Homo sapiens: one gene and its partner. The gene in region 1 interacts genetically with each later gene. Each region holds a gene or a part of one and is shown on either strand. Other genes may lie near its edges.

Region 1 (7,033 bases):
ACAGAAATCATCCCCAGGTTCAGGGTGCCTCCTTCTTTTCAATCTGATAATGGTCCTGAATTCATTTCTCAAATTACTCAAACACTTGCACAAGCCCTACGAATCACCTGGAAGCTACACATCCCCTATCAACCCCAGTCTTCAGGAAAGGTTGAAAAAATGAATGGCATTCTAAAAATCACCCGCACCAGGTACTCACTCCAAACACATAAAGACTGGGTTACACTTCTAGCTTTGGCCCTCCTAAAAATTCGGGCACTCTCACGTAAACCTTTAATGCTCATCCCCTTTGAACTCATGTATGGGAGTTTTGAGCATAAGTATTTGAACTCATGCTCCTTTTGTTCCACCTCAGGGTCAAGCCCCACCTCTAACAACCCCTCTCATTTCTCCTCTTCTGCATATCATCTGCCATTTCATTTGGGAATATGCTGACAAAATACAACTCCTTTAATCCCTTCCTACAGTCAGGAAACTGGGTTCTGGTAAAAGGTCCCAGCCCTACCCCCAATTCCCCCCTCACACCAAAATGGAAGGGGCCTTACCAGATCTTCCTCACTACACCCACAGCAGCAAAGCTCCAGGGACTCCCCAGCTGGTTTCATTATACTTCTCTCAAGAACACAGACTTCCCTTCACTACACATCCAAACAATCAAATCTAAACCACCTTCAGCCTCTCTTGTGTCTCCACAGGATCCACTTCCCTTCATCTCACATGAATGCCGGAGGAAAAGGAAGAGAAATTCACCTAAGCAGCTATGTCTCTTTCTCTCCCAAACTTTCATTGCTTCCTAACTAGCCTTGTTACAGACCTTCAGTGGTATCCTTATGAAACTCTCATTATACATCCTGATCAGCTCCTTACTATTCCACGGGATTTATGGCTTCAAGGAACCTTCCAGGACTTTATTCCTACCCAAACTTTTTCCTCCTTTTGTTGTTTCTTTCTATCTAAATTCCCTAATCACATCAACCTCACCGATACAACCACTCCTCACTGCTATCAAACTAGAACGTTCTATAAACCTTACACAACCCCTCTTGCTGCAAGCTAACTCTTCCTTTGCTCCAGAATGCTGGATGTGTTTATCGCTGTCTTCTTCAGCTTATACATCCCTTCCTACACCCCTTCATGACCTTTTAACAGAAAACGTAACCCTAATCTATAAACTCCAAAAAGGAGCTTCCTTTTTTGAAAGAGCTGACAGTCTGGTTGGCGATTATCCCACTTCCAAGGTCAATCAGGCCAACACATTATTTCAAACCTATTACAACTCCCTACAACGCCTTAAGCCACAAGGCCCTCCCATTGAAGGGCCCATAATTAAACACACCCCACTTTTACAACAAGCCTCACTTTGCTTTTCAGCCTCTGAGGGAAATTTCCGTGTAAGATCCTTAAACCTAACCAATGCAACCGCATTATCATTGTTAAACACCCTGCTGACCATCAAACTAACCGAGTTGACTACCAAGTATCACCTGAAACGAATGGAGCATTTCTGCAACCTGTTCGTTTTGCAGCCTCTCCCTCAACCAATGCCTCTGGCCTAATTTGTGCTGCCCCTAGCGCCCACCTTTATCCATGGCTCAACATCAATGCAATGGTGCAACATCAAATCGTATTAAATGTGTAAAAAATAACTCTTCCTATATCGCTACTATAGTGGGTGTCTCCTTGACCTCCTCCTTGACCACCTGGAGTAATGAACCATAGGAAAGAAAAAACACCCATCTTTAATTCACTTGTTTTCTTTCTGTATCTCCAACTGTATTTATGACAAAGGCTTATTTTTTGTGTGAGTGGCACCAACACATATCTTTGTCTCCCCACTAACTGGACTGGAACCTGTACCCTAGTTTATCTTTCTCCCTCCATTGGACTAATTCCTCCTAGCCAACCTTTGCCCATTCCATCCATCCAATACGTTAGGAAGAGGAGGGCCATCCACGTCATTCCTTTAATGGCTGCCTTGGATATAACCTCCAGACTTGGATTGGGAGCAGGCAGATTGGCCACTCCCTTAACATACTTTAAAGCTCTTTCCACAGAATTACAGGGTTCTTTAGAAGATATAGCCTGAAGCATTATAAGAGTCCAAGACAAACTAGACTCCTCGGCTGGAGTAGTCCTCCAAAACAGATGGGGACTAGATCTAATAATGGCTGAAAAAAGGGACCTCTGCCTCTCATTGGGTGAGGAATGTTGCTTTTATCTCAACCAATTGGGCCTAGTAAGAAACGCTGATGAAAAACTTAAAGAAAGGGCTAAAAAGCTAAGGGAGTATCAAAACAACCAACTAGATTCTTGGTTTGGGAACAAAATCATAATATGGGTCATCCCATTCCTGGGCCCCCTCTTAATGATAAGCCTAAGACTATTGTTCTTACCCTGCGTAGTTAATCTTATTCAAATATTTTTAACTGACAGGATCATGGCCATTTCACAGACAACTACCAAAAACATCCACCGACAGCATTACCCCTTCTTCTTTCTTCAGCACTTAAAATCTTACCTCTTGTCCACAGTATACTTTGTTTCTTTCATGTCAGGAAGGTCAAATCTGGGTGCCAAAGATCTAAAAATTAAGAGTTGAATGTAAAACTCAAATAAAATTGAAATCAAATATAACTTATTTAGTGTTAATGTTAACCTTTTTCTTTCTTTTTTTTTCTTCAGAGGCAAGGTCTCACCCCATCTCCCAGCCTGGAGTGCAGTGGTGTGATCATAGCTCACTACAACTTTGAAATTCTGGGCTCAGAGGAGATCCTCCCACCTCAGCCTCCCAGGTAGCTGGGATTACAGGCATGTGCCACCATACCTGGCTAATTCTTTTTATTTTTAGTAGAGACAGGGTCTCTTCATGTTACCCAGTCTGGTCTCGAACTCCTGGACCCAAGCCATCCTCCCACCTTGGCCTCCCAAAGTGCTGGGGATCACAGGCGCAAGCCACAGCACCCAGCCAACTTTTTTCTTTATAAAACTATATACTTACCGTTCTCCTCTGGCCTCTAATACTTTTTCATCCCTCCTCTGGTTCCTTTTTCCACCTTAGAGTGCTCATTGTTGATGCGTCACTAACCTCTCCTTTTCCTCCTCCAGACTCAAAACCTCAGGAAGTACATCTCCTTACACCCTCATCCTAGCTGTTATTCCTTACTGATGATAAGCCACCTGCAAATGGAAGTTTAAATACCACCTAAAACTAAACATATCCAAACTGCTGTCTTCTCTCTAAGCCCTTAACTCCTTAACTTCCTTAACACCATTAGTGCCATGGTTCTTGACTGCATCCTGTTCAAAGTGAAGCAATCTTCAAATCCTTTCTCCTTTACCTCTCCTTCATGCTTTCACTCAGCTACGGGGAACCTATTCCCTCAAGTCATGTCCACTCTTCCTTTACAGTCTTTCTCACACATTCTCCTCATCCCTCCTGACTGCCACAGTAATCGTGGCTGAGGGCACCTCATGTGCAGAACTCTCTTCTCTCCATCCAAGCATCCACATCAAGAACCATGTTTCTTCAATACATCTATCTACTGCTCAGAATATACTGGTGGCTCATAATGGCTCCTACTGCCATCTTACTGTCATTTCTGACTATATTTACATCTTTGCCTTTCTCTTCAGTTAATTGACATAGCATTTGACCTTTTTTTAATCCAAGTTTTTATGCTATTTTAACCTTACTTGTCTGCAAAATAATACACTTCTCTTGAAAACACTTCTACAGTGAAAACAGCCCAATTCCTTGCCAGTCTTGTACAAAATAATGCCCTTAACCTAATTACTCTAGCGATACCCCCAAAGTGCTTTATGTTTACAGTGTAGCATGTGCACATAGTCAAAGATTTCTCGACACATCTAAAATTATTTGTTTATAGATTTCAAGCTTTCTGCTTCTGAAACTCTGCTCAAATAAGGGTGTACAATACTCTACAAGTATTAAGAACAATAAATAAGTCTGAAATAAAACTTCAGATCAAAATATGTTCAATGCATAATGATACTCACCTTTTTGCCTTCCTTTGATTATTTCTGAGACCATTCTATAACAAAAGAAAATGAGAAATAGTTTCAGATGACTAAATCAGTCATCTTCCTTTCCCGTTTTCCTTCCTCCTGTATATCTAGATGGCTCTCTGACCAATTTCTTAGTCCATCAATGTCTGTACTCTCATCAAGCCCTGTATCAACACTTAGTATTGTAAGACTTAACTTTTTGCCAATCTAATGAGTTTAAAATAGTATCTAATTGTTTTGATTTAAATTTTCCTGATTCCTAGTAAAGCAGCTTTTAATATTTGTTGCCCATTTGGGTATCTCTTCTCTGAATATCTGTTTATACATTTTGTACACTTTTCTACTGAGCTGCTTGCCATTTTCTTATTGATTTGTAGTTCTTTATAACAGAATACTCTTGTAACACTAATCACCAAAAGCATGGATTTTGCTCTAAGTTCAACATTGCCTGCTTATGTGCACAAAAAAATTGTCTGGTTTTTGTTTGTTTGTTTGTTTTTGCGATGAGGGTCTCACTATGTTGCCTAGGCTGGTCTCAAACTCCTGGGCTAAAGCGATCCTCCTACCTTGGCCTCTCAAGTGCTGCAGGCTACAGGCATGTGCCACTGCACCAGCCTAAAAAATTATCTGATTTCAAGTTTACTTTTAAGTTTAATTCTAATTTTTAAAAACAGAAACGAACTATATTAGTGAATCTTTAAATATTATCCCATTGGTAGGAGAGAAAAGCAAAATCATAGGAATATACTAAAATATAAGGATGAGTGAGGAAAGACAGAAGTGACGTGTGGAAGGGTAAGGAATGGAACTTAATTTTAAAAAAAGTCAAAAAGCTGCCGAGCCGGGCGCGGTGGCTCATGCCTGTAATCCCAGCACTTGGGGAGGCCGAGGTGGGCAGAACACGAGGTCAGGAGTTCGAGACCAGCCTGAACAACATGGTGAAACCCCGTCTCTACTAAAAGTACAAAAATTAGCCAGGTGTGGTACACGCGCATGTAATCCCAGCTACTCAGGAGGCTGAGGCAGGAGAATCGCTTGAACCAGGAGGTGGAGGTGGTAATTAGCCAAGATCTCACCACTGCACTCCAGCCTGGGCAACAGAGGGAGACTCCATCTCAAAAAAAAAAAAAAAAAAAGTCTACTGAGGTATTATCATTTAGTAAGAGTGCATAAGATAAAAAATATAAAAATTATGGTGGAATACTGGAAGTTATTTTTAAATGAGGAAACGCACAGAAAAATAAGATTAAGTAGGAAGCTTCGAGACTAATACGATACCATAAGCAACGAAGAACTGTTTAAACTGTCACTGTTAGAATTTATCTCTGATGTATCTGCTGAGAAGTCACCTTCAGATGATGATTCAGAAGCGCTAGAAGAAAAGGGTGTAACTATTAGTTTATTAATTCTGTTTTTATCACTTATTTCTTTCCCTAAATTCTCCTTAAACATAAAAATCTGTCTTTCAGACAGAAATATGAATATGTTAAGTATCTCAATTGTTTGTCTACACTTACAGTGTGCTGGTCACTAAAGAGTTGCTTTGGGACTCACACGTAGTAGCAAAAGAACCAGAGGACAGGTAGTCAGATTTCTGAAAGAAAAAGTATCCCTTAGTAGGCTTAAATACAACTAATTATTTCTCTACAGAGGCTCAGTTTCTATGTACTATCACATTTATTTCAACACATTTACCAAATCCACAACCATAAACAATTACAAGATTAATAACATTTTTTGGATGTTTGGTCTGGATTTTATTTTATTTTTTATTTTACTTTTCTGGATCACAGGGCAGATATTTTGTTTGTTTCTTTCTTTTCAGACAGGATCTGGCTCTGTTGTCTAGGTTGAAGTGCAGTGGCACAATCTTGGCTCACTGCAACCTCCATCTCCCAGGCTCAGGCAATCCTCCCGCCTCAGCCTCCTGAGTAGCTAGGACTACAGGTACATGCCACCACACCCGTCTAATTTTTTTTTTTTTTTGTAGCGACATGGTTTTGCTGTGTTGCCCCGGCCAGGTGGTCTGAAACTCCTGAGTTCGGCCAGGTGCAGTGGCTCAAGCCTGTAAACCCCAGCACTTTAGGAGGCTGAGGTGGGTGGATCATGAGGTCAGGAGTTCAAGACCAGCCTGGCCAACATAGTGAAACCCCATCTCTACTAAAAATAAAAAATTAGCCGGGCACGGTAGCAGGCGCTTGTAGTCCCAGCTACTCAGTAGGCTGAGGCAGGAGAATTGCTTGAACATGGGAGGCGGAGGTTGCAGTGAGCCGAGATCGTGCCACTGCACTCTAGCCTGGGCAACAGAGCGAGATTCCATCTCAAAAAAAAAAAAAAAAAAACTCCTGAACTCAGGAGATCCACCTGCCTTGGCCTCCCAAAGTGCTGGGATTACAGGTGTGAGCCACCACACCCAGCCCAGCCTGGAGTTTAAAAACTACCCTGAGTTGCCACCAGAAATTTTATCCCTCTGAGGCCTCATGGCCCCATGGTGCATGGCTCATCGGTACGACACAGAATGGAGGAATCATTTTGCTAAATCACTGGCTGTCTTGGCATAATGTTAACACAGTCTAACCTCAAGTCAACTTCAGAGGGAATTTTAAAACATAAAAATTTAATCCAAAGGCAATACGTACCACTGAGGTTTCTTCTGATAATATCTGAAGATATGCAAGTTTAGCGGCCAATTGTTTTGCTTCCTGTTTAGTAGAACCTGTACCAATACTATATTCTTTCTGTCCCATTTTGCATTTATAATGAAATCTAGGAGAAATCATAGAAGGTACTTATCCAAACATGAAAAATATAGCAAATCCAACTTAGGATTCAAAAAAAATAACATATTAACAGAGATCTTAAGATAACACCAATTTATTAGATAGATTTATAGTTCATATCTTGCATAATTTAAACCCTCAGTAACATGCCTGACCAATTTCTCTGAATACCCAGGATCAGCTGACATCTGAGCTTGCATTTTCCAGGCAATTTCTAATTTTTTGTT
Region 2 (7,033 bases), about 140 Mb from region 1:
AAGGACTAGCCTATAGAATTCCTTCCTTTCAGTAGTCTATAAACTCCTTAGAGGCAGGGACTGCTTATTCACTGCACCCCAGTACCCAACACAACACTTAGCACACAGTATGAGCTCACTAAATGTTTGCTAAGTGAATGAATGAACAAACAAAGGGATGGAAATGCGCTGTCACTTTGAAGGCAAAAATGGCACTACTGGCCTATCATCTTTAGATCCCGTCCTATTATTCTGAATTTGACTGTGTCTCCCAAGCTCTCTTACCTAATTGCCTCTGTGATCCTGACTCACAAACAGGAAGCAGCTAAAAATGGGGTAGGGTATAACTGAATAATGAAGAGATTTCTAAAAATCACAACTCTGAAGTAGCTATAGAATAAGAAATCAAGGAAAGTTTCCTACTGCAAGAAATGCTTAATGACATTAACATCATAGCTGTCAACATTACTCACTAAAGAAATGTGGTTCTCTGGAGAAATATTACTAAATTTGGCAAGAAATTTCTCAGCAGCATTCCTTTTGGCTTGCTTTTTTGATGCCCCCTTTCCTGAACAAAGAAAAAGAAATGGTAGATTTAGAAAAGAAATTAGTGTCCACAGAGGATGATCAAACGTATGAAGTACTGTGTTTAATCAGAGAACCTCACGGTTTTTATTATATACTAGACTATGTTCTTACTGACCTGATAACTTTGTTTGTTATGCTATTTTGTTTGTATAGCTATTAATTCTTTTTTTTTTTTTTTTTGAGACGGACCCTCACTTTGTCACCAGGCTGGAGTGCAGTGGCACCATCTTGGCTCACTGCAACCTCCGCCTCCTGGGTTCAAGCAATTCTCCTGCTTCAGCCTCCCAAGTAGATGGGATTACAGGTGCCCACCACCACACCTGGCTGATTTTTTGTATTTAGTACAGACAGGGTTTTGCCATGTTGGCCAGGCTGGTCTCAAACTCCTTACCTCATATGATCGGCCCACCTCAGCCTCCCAAAGGGCTGGGATTATCAGTGTGAGCCACTGTGCCAGGCCTGTATAGTTACTAATTCTTACACTTTTGAAGACATTTGTTTTAAGTTTTTCTTTAATAGTTATGCTTTCTGTTTTTCTATAATAATTGTATTTTCCTATGTCTAGCATTACTGAACCATATTTGGTTTAATTCTGACCAATTATTTAGATTTATTAAAATACATCTGAATTATAACTCCTCTCTCTCAATGTCTATTTCCTGCTTATGATCTTCTCTAAACTGACGATTATATGAAATTCCTTTTAACAGGAATAAGAAAGGCACAGGGGATGGTGGAGTTGAAAGATACCATAAATATCTACCTCCATGCTTTTGTTTTATAGATTAAAAAACTGAGGTCCAGAGAAATTAAGTAATTTGCTTAACTTCGCGAATCAAGGACTGCATCAAGGACGGAAGCTGAGGTTCCTGCTTTTGGCCTGGTGCTTTCTGTACTGGCCACACTACCTCCCAAAGGCAAATAGTTTCTTATTACTTGAAACTATTATCTAGCTAAGCTAAAATCCCATTTTAAGCCACTTTTGAAAATAACAAAAACATGCCAGAGAAGTTAACAGGAATTCTCGCTAGTACTTTTTAAAGTGACAGCGTTTCTTATAGTTTATATCCTTTATAACATAGAAGTTGCTATAATTAAGAAAGATAATTTTCATTTTTATCTCACTGCAATTATTTGCCATGTAGTCTCTTATTAATCATATAATTTTCAAGTGTAATCTTCCTCTAGTCCTATTTTCTAGATAGAATAGCTGTTAAAATCCAAGAGATTTACTATAGCTTTTTCTCCAAATTGAGGTTTTTTAAGTCAGTAATTTATCAATGAAGACTGTTTAAAGTACAGAGCCAACAGTTTGTCTTTCTATTAATAATCTATGATTTTTAAAAATATCAAATTAAGAAGACTAAGTATCTTAAGCCAAATATTTATACTTAAGTTCAACCTCAGAAAGTCAGAGACAATAAAAGAGGAGTGTATCAATTTTTCTGCATAGAAATATTTGAAAACATTACGACAGAAATTTCGATAGTCATTCATCATCTGAAAATATTTCAAATGCCTTTAATTGTAAGAAATAAGTACCAGTTTCCATAAATGACTCTAGCCTGCAAATTGTAGTATATTCTCTCTTATGAGCAGGTCCTCCCTCCTGGGAAAGGGTATATTCAGGAAGTCTCCAGCCATGATGAATAGCCAATTCCTATAAAATCAAGATGAGGCTTTAATAGTAATTTTATGCAATGGCTCAATCACATAAGTGTTTTCTTAATTTTGATCCCATTTCTATGTATATGTTTGAAAAGAATAGTGATATTCTGCAACAGAAAAAAGAGGGAAGACCCTCTATTTCTCAAAGACATTCCCGCATTTTATATTTTTATACCCCAATACCAAAACTGAAGCAGTTTTGTGCTACGAATGGTGTTCTTGCATTAAACCACAGTGAGCTGGTATCAGACATCAACTAGAAAAACAGGCTACTACCGCCCTCTTTGGCAACACCAGAGGAGACCATCTACAGGTTTCACTGCCATCAGTTCCTAAAGTCCCTCCCCTCCTAGCTATAGACTTCCAAACCCACAGCTGGCCAAGAACACATGAGGAGTAGGGACAGCAAACAACAGACTTGCATAAAGTGGGGGACAGAAGGTGAAGAAAACTATAGAAAAGCTCACTGTGCAGGAAAAGGAGACCAAAGGACTGGCTGAATAATGGGGAGGGAAATGGCCTAACAGAGCACATGGATAATCTGCAAGAAGGATATTCTGCATATAGAAATTCAAAGCTGAATATATGTGTGTGTGTTTGTGTGTGTATAGATAAAATTTTTTTTTTTTGGTAGAATAAGCAAATAGACTCCTTTTCTTCAGTTAGGTTCACTGATTTGATTTAGGCTCTCTATAAAGTCTTCTGTCTCAACAGAAGTAGAAAGAGATTTGTCACAAGAGTAGCAAGAACTATTCTTAAAGTATAAAACACTTTACCCATGTGCACTGAGGGCCTGTTGATCTTAAATGAGAATTCTATAAGCCAAAGGCAAATACTGTATATGAAAGAAAACCCAGAACATAAATAGGAAAATAATTTCAAGTTAGCTCTGTTAATCTAATGATCGTAAGTTGGAAAACAAAATATATCACTATCTTGTCTTTAAAATATTAATTCCTTGTGTTAGCCCCTCTGACATTACAAACTTATTATATATTTCATCAGTAGGCAAAGAACTGTACAACTTACCTGTAATGAACCAATAGGATTAAGCTGGTTCTTTGGTTGCTTGGAAGGGTCAGGCATTAAGGGGTCAGGAACTGCAAAGCTAAATATTTTTTAAAAGTGTTATAAAACAAAATAATTTCCCCCGAATTATGAAATAAATGACAAGCATTTTCTAATTAACTCTCTATGTCTTTGCTCTTGTCATTCCTTCTACATGGAATGCCCTTTTCTCAGACCTCTTCTATGGGAATCTGATCGGTCATCCAAGATATATCTCAAATGTCACTTCCTCCAAGAAGCCTATCCTTTTACCCCAGTGGTTTATAATCTCTCCCTTCTTTGAAACATTATAACACATGGTTTAATCCTTTCTTGAAATTGTTTTACCATAAATTATATACTCTTACAAATACATATAATTTGTCCATCCTTCACCACACCTCTCCCCTGTTCAGACAGTAAGCTCCTTGAGGTAGGGCCTATGTATCACTTACCTACATAAGCTTTGTGGTGTTTTGTACATAATAGGCATGCCATAAAAATGTATTTAAAGAATACTCTGTTACAACTATACAAAAAACAGAAGAGTAACAATGATCCAGAAAATTTAGCCTGGCAATGTGAATAATACAGATTATGTGTAAATACTGTTTTTTCATCCACAGAACTATGAAGAGAGATCTGTTTGATCTATCATCTGCTCAGTGCTGGGATAATCCTCTAAGATTTACATGTATCCTGCAGAAAATAGATGGCTTAGATGAATTTGGTTTTAGCAAGTGGGGATTATGATTAGGGAAAAAGAGAACAACCTCTTCTAGGGAGTCTGGAATTACTAGTTACTTAGCAGGTCAGTACTTAAAACTGAATAAGCGGCATTTCAAGGTTAGTACCACCTAGGCAACTGGAGTCATTTTTCCATGACAAATGAGGTTTAGTTATTGCCACTTCCTCAAGGTTTTTTTTTTCCAACTGTGAGAATTTCAAGCTTTACATAGGCTGATGAGATATGAGTATTCACTTACAATGCTGCATGCCGAAGCTACCCAAATAATTGTGATGGAGAAGTGAGAAAGTCTCTGTATTAAGTCAGGCCACTTTAGGCCTGATTACAGCTTAGTAATTCCCATTTTATCTGTCAAGAAGCACAAATATAGTAAAGTTTGTTAGCTTTTTTTGCTGACAAAGTGCCAAGATGCAGAAAGGACACTCCATACCCCTCATTTCTACAAATGTACTTAATGGTTGGGTTCACCTTCAGGCTATACAGAAACAGCATGGCCATCACCAGTGGGGGAGAACCCAATACCTGCCATGTCATTTGGCATGTCTTTTTTTTGTTTGTTTGGAGACAGAGTCTTGCTCTGTCGCCCAGGCTGGAGTGCAATGGCGCGATCCCAGCTCACTGCAACCACTGCCTACTGGGTCCAAGGAATTCTCGTGTCTCAGCCTCCCAAGCAGCTGGGATTACAGGAGCGTGCCACCACACTCGGCTAATTTTTTGTATTTTTAGTAGAGACGAGGTTTCACCATGTTGGCCAGGCTGGTCTCGAACTCCTGACTCAAGTGATCTGCCCACCTTGGCCTCCCAAAGTGCTGGGATTACAGGTGTGAGCCACCATGCCTGGCCTTGTTTTTCTTTGAGGCAGGGTTTCACAGGCTGGAGTGCAGGGGCACAATCTTAGCTTACTGCAATCTCCGCCTCCCGGGTTCAAGCGATTTTTGTGCCTCAGCCACCCAAGTAGCTGGGATTACAGGCGCCTGCCACCATGCCTGGCTAATTTTTGTATTTTTAGTAGAGACAGGGTTTTGCCATGTTGGCCAGGCTGGTCTTGAACTCCTGGCCTCAAGTGATCCACCCACCTCAGCCTCCCAAAGTGCTGGGATTACAGGCGTGAGCCACCCCGCCCAGCCTGGCATAGATCAATTATAATGCATGACCCTAGAGAATCAAGCATCATCTTGTGAAATGCAAGGCTTGTCTTGGGCAGCTGCTTATCTAGAGGGTTGCCATGTCACTGGTTAGTTCTAAACTACCCAAACGGTTTAGAATGATTTACAAAAAGAGAGGAATACTACATGAGAACCTAACTACACCCCTAATCCAAAAGCCTTTCTATGACTAGGGAACAAAAAACCCATCCCAAATTCCCTGGGTCTCTACTGTCAACTATAAGCTGATTACACAGATCGTACTTCAGGCATATGTAAGTGTATGCACAAGAAGAACTTGAAAGCATGCCAAGCTCCAGAGTGCACCCAGTGGACACTACTTTAATATGTGAGATGCTCCAGGACCAATATTCTATCTAGAAACACCTAAAGTAGTAAAAAATCTATCCCAGCACTTTGGGAGGCCGAGGCTGGCGGATCACGAGGTCAGGAGATCGAGACCATCCCGGCTAAAACGGTGAAACCCCGTCTCTACTAAAAATACAAAAAATTAGCTGGGCGTAGTGGCGGGCGCCTGTAGTCCCAGCTACTTGGGAGGCTGAGGCAGGAGAATGGCGTGAACCCGGGAGGCGGAGCTTGCAGTGAGCCGAGATCCCGCCACTGCACTCCAGACTGGGCGACAGAGCGAGACTCCGTCTCAAAAAAAAAAAAAAAAAAAAAAAAATCTTACTTTAGAAAGATATGTCAAGAATTAATATCCCACTTAACATTCTCTTCTTTTGGTATACATTATATAATAAAAGAAAACCTCTGCCTGCTTCTTCAAAATTAGAATTCCCAAAAGAGTACTTTTAGTGGATCTTTCTCCATCTCACACTTTGTTTTCTTCAATGTAGAAATAATCAAAGTCTAAATACAAAATGTTAATATTAATATTTGCAAGAAGCACTGATTTTCTACTGTTGTATCCCATTAAAAAAAAAAAAACAGTAAAGCCTAGTTCATGAGCACCTTCATTTAATAGCTAATTGCTGGATTTGATTGGATAAAGTTTTCTTTAATGGATGATAAGTTTTCATAAGGAAATAGAATTTGAGAGGTAGGATGCTAACAACTGTTCACTTTGTTGCTTTTGTAAGCATGTTCAAATTTTTAATCTTACCTCAGCCATGATATTTTTGAGCTGCTGAATACAAAGAAATTTAGCTCACCAAATACTTGCATTGGCTTTCAAAATGTTTATGGCAGCCTCTGCAGCTCTATGTTTCGCCAGCTTCTTACTTGTACCTTCACCTGAATTAAGATTTAAAAAAAGAAGTCTTTATCTCCCACAAAAATGTGCAGCTTACAAAGATGTTTTCAATACACAAAACAAAGTCACTATAGATTTTACATACACATACTAGGTAATAAAAATATGTACGTTATATACTGTACATAAAAATATGTACATGTTATATACTACATGGTTATATACTGTAATAAAATATTCACCATGTGAAAAAATTTTAAAAAATAACTTTTTAAAGTTCTATATAATTCTATGCATACCTGCATAAAAATCCTTATTTCTACATTATATATGTTTATTATATAACATGGTAATAAAGTAGACCGTGTCACACCTCTGAAGAAATGCAGATTAGTATTTTACTCTTCCTTTATTCCTGGAGGGGAAATTCTTCTGCAGCAAGAAGTTTCTTTTAAAGGAACCATTTACAGCAGAATTGTTTGATAGCAAAATGTGCATAATTTTATTCTGACAGCCTGTCCTATAACGTATCAAACTGCTTTGCTAGGCTGAGCAGTCATGATTATGTGTTGGGTACAACAGGAAAGAGTTTTATGGAATAAGGTGACAGCTTGTTATGTATCTTCTGGACGGTCTGTATCTTCT

Evidence for each region. Genes that interact genetically often act in the same process or in processes that back each other up.
Region 2: of EIF2AK2 (region 1) and PRKRA, changing one enhances a phenotype caused by changing the other (phenotypic enhancement), as found in Homo sapiens cells (one study listed by BioGRID).

The regions. Positions count from the first base shown.
Region 1 is NC_000002.12:37,132,966-37,139,998, forward strand, and holds part of EIF2AK2 (interferon-induced, double-stranded RNA-activated protein kinase), read right to left. Parts: intron 6,793-7,033; coding exon 6,666-6,792; intron 5,621-6,665; coding exon 5,544-5,620; intron 5,399-5,543; coding exon 5,305-5,398; intron 4,053-5,304; coding exon 4,018-4,052; intron 2,582-4,017; coding exon 2,519-2,581; intron 1-2,518.
Region 2 is NC_000002.12:178,441,158-178,448,190, forward strand, and holds part of PRKRA (interferon-inducible double-stranded RNA-dependent protein kinase activator A), read right to left. Parts: intron 6,430-7,033; coding exon 6,348-6,429; coding exon of another isoform or gene 6,299-6,347; intron 4,379-6,298; exon of another isoform or gene 4,269-4,378; intron 3,344-4,268; coding exon 3,265-3,343; intron 2,228-3,264; coding exon 2,110-2,227; intron 548-2,109; coding exon 453-547; intron 1-452. UniProt on the Homo sapiens protein: Activates EIF2AK2/PKR in the absence of double-stranded RNA (dsRNA), leading to phosphorylation of EIF2S1/EFI2-alpha and inhibition of translation and induction of apoptosis.